Linked DNA regions of Homo sapiens: region 2 is reported to be linked to region 1. The links are microRNA targets in miRTarBase. Many come from high-throughput screens and were not tested one by one. Region 1 holds a microRNA gene; the other region holds the end of a gene's coding sequence.
What was found. The annotated mature microRNA hsa-miR-6861-5p reads ACUGGGUAGGUGGGGCUCCAGG and lies in region 1 at 2,767-2,788, shown strand. An mRNA with a match to its seed (bases 2 to 7 or 8) in the 3' UTR can be bound and repressed. Matches are read on the target gene's strand: a 7mer-m8 pairs with bases 2 to 8, a 7mer-A1 pairs with bases 2 to 7 and ends in A, and an 8mer does both.

Region 1 (4,066 bases):
CCAGCTGAGGCTTCTGGCTACAGGGATGGCCAAGGCCCCAGAGGGTATGGGATGCAGAACCACATGGTGTTGTGGGGTGCATACTAGGAAGAAGTGCTCTCGACTTGTATCAGTGGAGTGTCTGCGGTGAAGGGGTAGGGAGGTTGCTACTAAGGAGACTCCAGGCTTAGACCCGAATGTCCATCCACCTGTCACTGTCCCCAAGCTGCAGTCAGTCTCCTTTGGGTCCGACCCTGTCGTCTCCCTGGTAGCCCAGCAAGCACAGTGCGAATCAGTTTCCCCTGGACGCTGATCCTGGTCGCCATATGTGGGGAGGCGACAGCCTGTACACCTCCACAGACAGGACTAAGTCAGGGCTGTCTGGTGGCAAGGGACAGAAATCCCAACTCCAACAAGCTTTAGAAAAAAATTGTTTAAAATGAGTTGCTCTTAGGCCGGGCGCGGTGGCTCACGCCTGTAATCCCAGCACTTCGGGAGGCCAAGGTGGGCAGATCACGAGGTCAGGAGATTGAGACCATCCTGGCTAACACAGTGAAACCCCGTCTCTACTAAAAATACAAAAAATTAGCCAGGCATGGTGGCGGGCGCCTGTAGTCCCAGCTACTTGGGAGGCTGAGGCAGGAGAATGGTGTGAACTCGAGAGGCGGAGCTTGCAGTGAGCTGATATCGCGCCACTGCACTCCAGCCTGGGCGACAGAGCAAGACTTCATCTCAAAAAAAAAAAAAAAAAAAATTAGTTGCTCTTAAAACAAAAAGCATGATGGGTTTGACTTCAGGCAGGGCCAAATCCAGGTGTTCAAACAGTATCATCTGGTATTGGTCTCAGGCCTCTGATCCAGATTGCTTTAAAAAAAAAAAAAGAAAGAGGACAGGCGCGGTGGCTCAGCTGTAATCCCAGCACTTTGGGAGGCTGAGGCGGGTAGATCACGAGGTCAGGAGTTCAAGACCAGCCTGGCCAAGGTGGTGAAACCCCGTCTCTACTAAAAATACAAAAATTAGCCAGGCATGGTGGCGGGTGCCTGTAATCCCAGCTACTCGGGAGCCTGAGGCAGAGAATTGCTTGAACCCAGGAGGCAGAGGTTGCAGTGAGCTGAGATTGCGCCACTGCACTCCAGCTGACAGAGCGAGAATCTGTCTCAAAAAAAAAAAAAAGAAAAAGCGGTCTGGGTGCAGTGGCTCACACCTGTAATCCCAGCGCTTTGGAAGGCTGAGGCAGGTAGATCACCTGAGGTCAGGAGTTAGAGACCAGCCTGGCCAACATAGTGAAACCCAGTCTCTACTAAAAATACAAAAATTGACCAGGCATGGTGGTGGGCGCCTGTAATCCCAGCTACTCGGGAGGCTGAGGCAGGATAATTGCTTGCACCCAGGAGGCGAGGGGTTGCAGCGAGCCAAGATTGCGCCATTGCACTCCAGCCTGGGCAACAAGAGCAAAACTCCGTCTCAAAAAAAAAAAAAAGCAAGCATAATTAGCCTCAAGCAGTCTCTCCCAGCGCACGGGCAGAGGTGGCCTCCAGTGGTAAAGGGTTTCCCATCATAGTCGGTCCATGCCAGTGAGAGAGGATCGCTGCCTCCAAACAGACGTGGGAAGAGGCCTGGAATGTGGGTCTCTTTAGCCTGGCCTGGGTCACACGCCCGGCCCTGAACTGATGGCAGGTTCTGATTGGCGAAAGCTGTGTCACATGCTCATCTACACGGCCGAGGGTAGACCCCACCAGCTGCGCTTGGGGTTTACCCAGCCACCTGGGGATCAGGGTTCCACCTCCCATGGCCTCATAATGAGCCTCGCTCTGCCTCCACCCTCCAGATCAATGATGAGACCGAGCTGGAGGCCCTGTGCGCTGAGATCGCCTCCCAGCACCTGGCCACGGAGAGCCCTGACAGCCCCAACAAGCCCTGCTGCAGGTTCACCTACCTGACCATGACGGGCGAGGAGGTGGAGCTGTGCAGCCGGGGCCGGCACATCCTTGTGGCGTGAGTGTGTGCGCGTGTCAGGGGCTGGCAGGGGCTGGCCCGGCCAGCCAGCCAGGGTATGACAGCAGCATCTGTTCCTGGGCAATGACACGAGGACCTAGGTCAGGTGACAGGTGGATTTCACCAGGAGAGGGAGATGAGGCAGGATGGTGGGTGCCAAGAAAGAGGGTCCTCAGCAGAAGGGGTTTACTAAGAAAACAGCAGCTCTGAGGCGGCGGCACCAGAGGCAGGAAAGGACTGGGATGACCAGGGCGGCTGGGCCCCAGGCCTCTCCCAAGAGAGGATCCGGGACCTCCAGCTGAGTGGGTGTGGCCCCCAGACCCAGCCTCTTCGGCGGTGTTCTCCCTCACCTGTGCTCCTCACCCGGGCAGGTGGGAGAACAAGGACATCTACGCGGCAGCCATCCGGAGCCTGCGGCTGCGGGAGCTGCAGAATGTGGAGTGCGTGACGGCCGTGCGGGCCGGCCTGGGCTCCATCATCCCCCTGCAGCTGCTGACCATGCTCAGCCCACTGGAGATGGAGCTGCGCACCTGCGGCCTCCCCTACATCAACCTCGAGTTCCTCAAGGTAGACATCCCAGGGCCAGGCTGGGCGGGGAGGTGGTGAGCCCCAGGCGTGCCTCCCTGTCACCCTCAACTCCAGCAGCAGGCATCGGCAGTGGCCTGTCTCAGCTCTGTCCTTGCCACAGACCTGTATCATTGTCATCATTGTCATCTCCCTGTGCTCACAGCCCACACGTTGCACCCTGCCCCAGGATTGGGCCTGGCCTGCAGACCCCAGGGCTGGGGAGGCACTGGGTAGGTGGGGCTCCAGGGCTCCTGACACCTGGACCTCTCCTCCCCAGGCCCACACCATGTACCAAGTGGGGCTGATGGAGACGGACCAGCACATCGAGTTCTTCTGGGGGGCCCTGGAGATGTTCACCCAGGAGGAGCTGTGCAAGTTCATCAAGTTTGCCTGCAACCAGGAGCGCATCCCGTTCACCTGCCCCTGCAAAGATGGGGGTCCCGACACTGCCCATGTGCCCCCGTACCCCATGAAGATCGCCCCCCCAGATGGCACAGCAGGTACCGCCCTCCCCTGGCCATGTCCCAAGTAGGGACACACTAGCCTTTCTCTGTTTGGAACTGGGGCTGCCAGGCCCCATGTGAAGGGAGAACAATGAACAGGAGCCCCACGTGCCAAAACTCAGACATCATTGAGGATTAGGGCCCGGCAGGAACCAGCCATACAGGCCTGCTGTTAGATACTTTCTCATATCTTAAAAGAAGCTGAAAATCCAGAATGCTTCAAATCTTCTAACTTTTAAATGCAGAAAAATGGTTAAAAAAAAAAAAAAAGAAACAATTTGCTGGGCAGACAAACCCATCAGCAGTTTGGCACATGCGCTGTCCAGCAGCTCTCTCCCCTTTTCCCTCCAAGAACATCTCGCAGGTTCCCAGGCCCTCATCCCCCTCCTGCTGGGCCCCAGGATTGGCTTGGGGCTACCCAAGGAGGCAAACCTGGAAGCAGAGGCCAGCCCAGCTTCCCTGGGAGCCTCACAGATGTGGGCCCAACCCTCTGATGCTGGCTCGGTTTCTTGTAGGTTCCCCAGACTCTCGCTACATCCGCGTGGAGACCTGCATGTTCATGATCAAGCTTCCCCAGTACTCCTCTCTGGAAATCATGCTGGAGAAACTTCGTTGTGCCATTCACTACCGTGAAGACCCCCTCAGTGGCTGATGGGAGGGAGCCCCAGAATTAGGCTGTCACTGAGGCACCCACTCTGCTGGCTTGGGAAGCCACCACTGCGGCCCGTCCCTCCAGGGCCCTGCGTGAGGAGTTGGCAACATTTTGCTTTTCCAAACTTTCGTCCACATTCCAGGGCCTCCTGGAAGACTTAACCTTTTGTCTTTGTACGTTTCGTGATGGGTTGGTTCTTTTGCTGCCTGTTTGTGGTCTATTTGTAGGATAGTTTAGTTCCCAGACAGTTTGTGTCTAATTTGATCTTCTTGGACATTGTCCCTCATGGCCACCAGATTCTAATGCCATAAGGCCCCAGCTGGTTCCCCATCACAGAACCACCCAGCAGGAAGCCGGGGGTACAATGACC
Region 2 (4,065 bases), not on the chromosome of region 1:
GCGCGATCTCGGCTCATTGCAAGCTCCGCCTCCCAGGTTCATGCCATTCTCCTGCCTCAGCCTCCTGAGTAGCTGGGACTACAGGCACCCACCACCACACCCAGCTAATTTTTTGTATTTCTAGTAGAGACGAGGTTTCACCATGTTAGCCAGGATGGTCTCAATCTCCTGACCTCATGATCCGCCCTCCTTGGTCTCCCAGTGCCGGGATTACAGGCGTGAGCCACCGTGCCGGCCTGAGCACCTTTTTAAAGCCAGCAGTAGCTCTAGGGCAAGGAAGGGTAAAGAGAAGGAGGCAGGTTTCCAGATGGAAGAACTAGATTCCTGCAGTTGCAAGTAGTTCTGCATTGCTGGAGCACTGAGTGTATGAAGCCATCATGTGTACAAAGGACCTTGTCTGAAATGACTAAGGAGTGTGACTTTGATCTTGAAGAAAGTAGGCTGTTGGTAGATACAGGTGGCTTGAGGTGAATATAGGGATATTTGCTTTTGGAGAGGTCCTTCAAGATGCTACATGGACGAGGATGGTCTAGCGCAGTGGTCCCCAACCCTTTTGGCACCAGGGACCGGTTTCATAGAAGACAGTTTTTCCAGGGTGGGGGCGGGAAGGGGGGGTGGTTTCAGAATGATTCAAGCGCATGACGTTTATTGTGCACTTTATTTCAGTTATTATTACACTGTAATAGATAATGAAATAATTATACAACTCGTTATACTGTAGAATCAGTGGGAGCCCTGAGCTTGTTTTCCTGCAACTAGATGGTCCTATCTGGGGGCGATGGGAGACAGTGATTGGTCATCAGGCGTTAGATTTTCGTAAGGAGCATACAACTTATATTCCTTGCATGGGCAGTTCACAATAGGATTCACCCTCCTATGAGAATCTAATGCCACTGCTGATCTGACAGGAGGCGGAGCTCAGGTGGTAATGCTTACTGACCCACCACTCACCTCCTGTTGTGTGGCCTGGTTCCTAACAGGCCACAGACAGGTGTGGGTCCATGGCCCAGGGGTTGGGGACCCCTAGTCTAGTGTGAAACAGGGAAGCCTGTTAGAAAGGTATGTAGTGACCCATTCAGCCCCAAGGGAGCCCATGAAGCCATGGGGATGGTGAAACTATATAGTGCATCACCGGGAAGGTATTATGGTTAACTTAGAAGCCACAGTTTCTAGGATAGTCTTGCTTTTATCATATTCTGTCTGATGTTTGTTCTCATTAGAACATAGATTTTTATTTCCAGCAGTGTTAAATAAGATTAGGGGTATGTGTGTGGGTGTGTGTGTGTGCGTGTGTATGTGTTTTGAAGGGAAGATTCAGAAGTTCTGAAGGCAGGATGATCAATTTGGGAAATTGTTCAAGGGGCTTATTAGAACCTACCTGAAGGGAACGTTTTTCTAGGACACAAAACACCGGTGCAAATCCACTGTTGAAAATGTTCTCCAATGTCTATTGTGAAATGGAGAGATTTTGAGTTCAGCTCCTTTCGGGAGGGGAGGAAAGAATCCTCTCCAAGGCAGCTTCCTCTAGCAGTTTCCTGCCTCTTGTGGGATGAGAAGATTTGCTGTCTAAGATATTATCATATTTATTTGTATTTTGCTGAGTTCTTTTACTGGATGTAAGGCAGTCCAAATGTTATTTGGAAATCTCCTATCAATCAATCATGCAATTTAGATAGAAGTTAGTTCCATACAGTGTGATCTCTGACTTGCTAAGGTTTAGAATAAACTCAAAGGGCAATGTGGCACAGTTATTAAGGTTTGAGAGTATGCCCATCTGTGCTCTGACTCTACACATCCACTGCGAGAAGAAACATCCATATAACACCAAAAACACTATATGAAAATCTTGTTGCACAGTAGGCCACCCATCAATATTACAGCTTTTCTTTTTCTTTTGATGTTCCAGGTGACCTGCAGGAAATGTAGAAATCAGGAAACTGACATACAAAAGAAAAAGTTAGTAGCAAATGGAAACAACTTTATAAAAATATAATATGGTATATAGTATAAAAATTATACTACAGTATACTTTTTACTTTATAAAAAGTATACCATAAAATAGTTTTAAAACTATTTTTATACTATATAAATAGTATAAGCAGTATAAAATAGGCTGGGCAGGATGGCTCATGCCTGTAATCCTAGCACTTTGGGAGGCCGAGGCAGGTGAATCAACTGAGGTCAGGAGTTTGAGACCAGCCTGGCCAACACGGTGAAACCCTGTCTCTACTAAAAATACAAACCCTGTCTCTACTGAAAATTAGCTATGCGTGGTGGCACATGCCTGTAGTCCCAGCTACTTAGGAGGCTGAGGCAGGAGAATTGTTTCAACCCAGGAGGCAGAGGTTGCGGTGAGCCGAGATTGCACCACTGCACTCCAGCCTGGGCTATAGAGCAAGACTGTCTCAAAAAAAAAAAAAAAAAAAAAGGATAAAATAGTTTTAGGACATAGTTTTATATCTAACATGATATGACACTGAGTTATTGTGTAAAAAGTTATTTTAAAATATAAAAGTAAATTCTTTGAACTAAGACAATGAGAAATTAAATATAAATGTTTAAGACCAAACTTAAACCTAGAAAAAACATCATCTCAAAATGACATGTTTCCCATGGCATAAGAAGCTGCTACAACTTTTAAGTGTGTAGGTGGTGGATTTTGAAATCTTTCTAGATTTTTCTTTCTTGAGAAATCTGGGTTTATCTTGAAAACCCTGAATTAGAAAAATTAGATTGATTTCATTCAGCGGCAAACACAGGAAGATGTATACTGAATCATATTTCTTAAAAATCTCAAATTTAGAAGATTGTGAGGTTGAATGAGGTCATCTCCTGAAGCTTCTATAGCAGGAATGCCGATCCATGATGAAGGACAGGATTGCATTTATTTTCTTTAGATGATCTACCATTGAACAGTAGAGACAGGGTCCCTCACGGTCTGTATCCAAACAGAACCCGGATTTTTACAGACTGATCGAGGCATAATGCTCAGAACTACATCTCTTTAGAGGCTCACTTTGCAAGGAAAAAAGAAATCATTCTGCCCTAGAAGGGGGCTGTAGGAAGTATTCACAATGAGTCAATTAATATCAAGATCTCCTGTTCCAGGAAACTGTTACTAAGTATTACAAAGGAAATTTTATGTGCTCACATAAGTTTAGAAAACACTGGCTTAAAGCTGGTATAGAATTATTCTTTCCTAGAGAAATATTTACAGCATTCACTATGCTAATATGAATTGTGATCCCTAGACAGAGGCATCTGATGTGAAGTAAGTCTCAAACTTATTTGACTATAGAACTTATTTTTAAAGTCCTCTGAAGGGACCAGTGTTTTGAGGAAAACATTATGGGAGGTATGGGACTGGATCAAAAGCTAATGAGGATATTGTAAGGGGTATTGTCCTGGTGTGGAGTGGCTGCAGCACAACTTGAAGAGATCAATTTCTAGAATTTCATCCCACATCTGCTGAAATCAGTCATTTAAAGGTAGGGCAGGAGATAGCTCCATTTTAAATAAATGTCTCAGATAATTCTCATGTCCATTGAGGGCAGAGGTCCCACCAGTGCAGAGATGGGTTAAGAACCGCTCAATGATGTAACTTCCTAGGTCACTGTCAGTCACAATGCCATAATCCTTTTCATAAAGCCCTTTCTACTCCCAGCACTCTCTTCAAAGTATTCTTCACTTCTGAGTTCCTAAGACTACAGATAAGGGGATTGAGCATGGGATTAAAGAGGCTGTGAAACAGCAGGAGATATTTCTTCTGCTCCTTGGGGTTCCCATATCTGGGTCCAACATACATGATAATGGCTGTGCCATAAACGAGTCCAATCACACAGAGGTGGGAGAAGCAGGTGCGGAAGGCTTTCCTCTGAACTTCCCTTGATTGGATCTGAAGGATAGCACAGAGGATGCACATATATGAAACTACAATTGTGGACAAGGGTCCCACCAGCCCAGAAATTGCTCCGGCCAAGACCATGTTCTCATTGATGTGGGTATCTGCACAGGCAAGTTTGAGAACAGCCAAGATTTCACAAAAAAAGTGATAAATTTTCTGGG

Region 2: miRTarBase lists OR2A4 as a target of hsa-miR-6861-5p. The part of its 3' UTR that is shown has no 7-base or 8-base seed match.

The regions. Positions count from the first base shown.
Region 1 is chr12:112,162,017-112,166,082 of GRCh38, reverse strand. MIR6861 (microRNA 6861) reads left to right here and starts at 2,762; the gene lies at 2,762-2,825. HECTD4 (HECT domain E3 ubiquitin protein ligase 4) reads left to right here. Exons shown (of 76, transcript NM_001388303.1): 73 at 1,808-1,974; 74 at 2,346-2,541; 75 at 2,819-3,041; 76 at 3,560-4,066. The coding sequence ends at 3,696. RefSeq lists an enhancer at 1-135.
Region 2 is chr6:131,696,829-131,700,893 of GRCh38, forward strand. It overlaps OR2A4 (olfactory receptor family 2 subfamily A member 4), which reads right to left. Exons shown (of 1, transcript NM_030908.2): 1 at 2,816-4,065. The coding sequence ends at 3,641. The region is part of intron 15 of ENPP3 (ectonucleotide pyrophosphatase/phosphodiesterase 3); the gene reads left to right. Among named protein-coding and RNA genes, the nearest start is that of OR2A4, 2.5 kb to the right of the region's middle. RefSeq lists an enhancer at 3,673-4,065.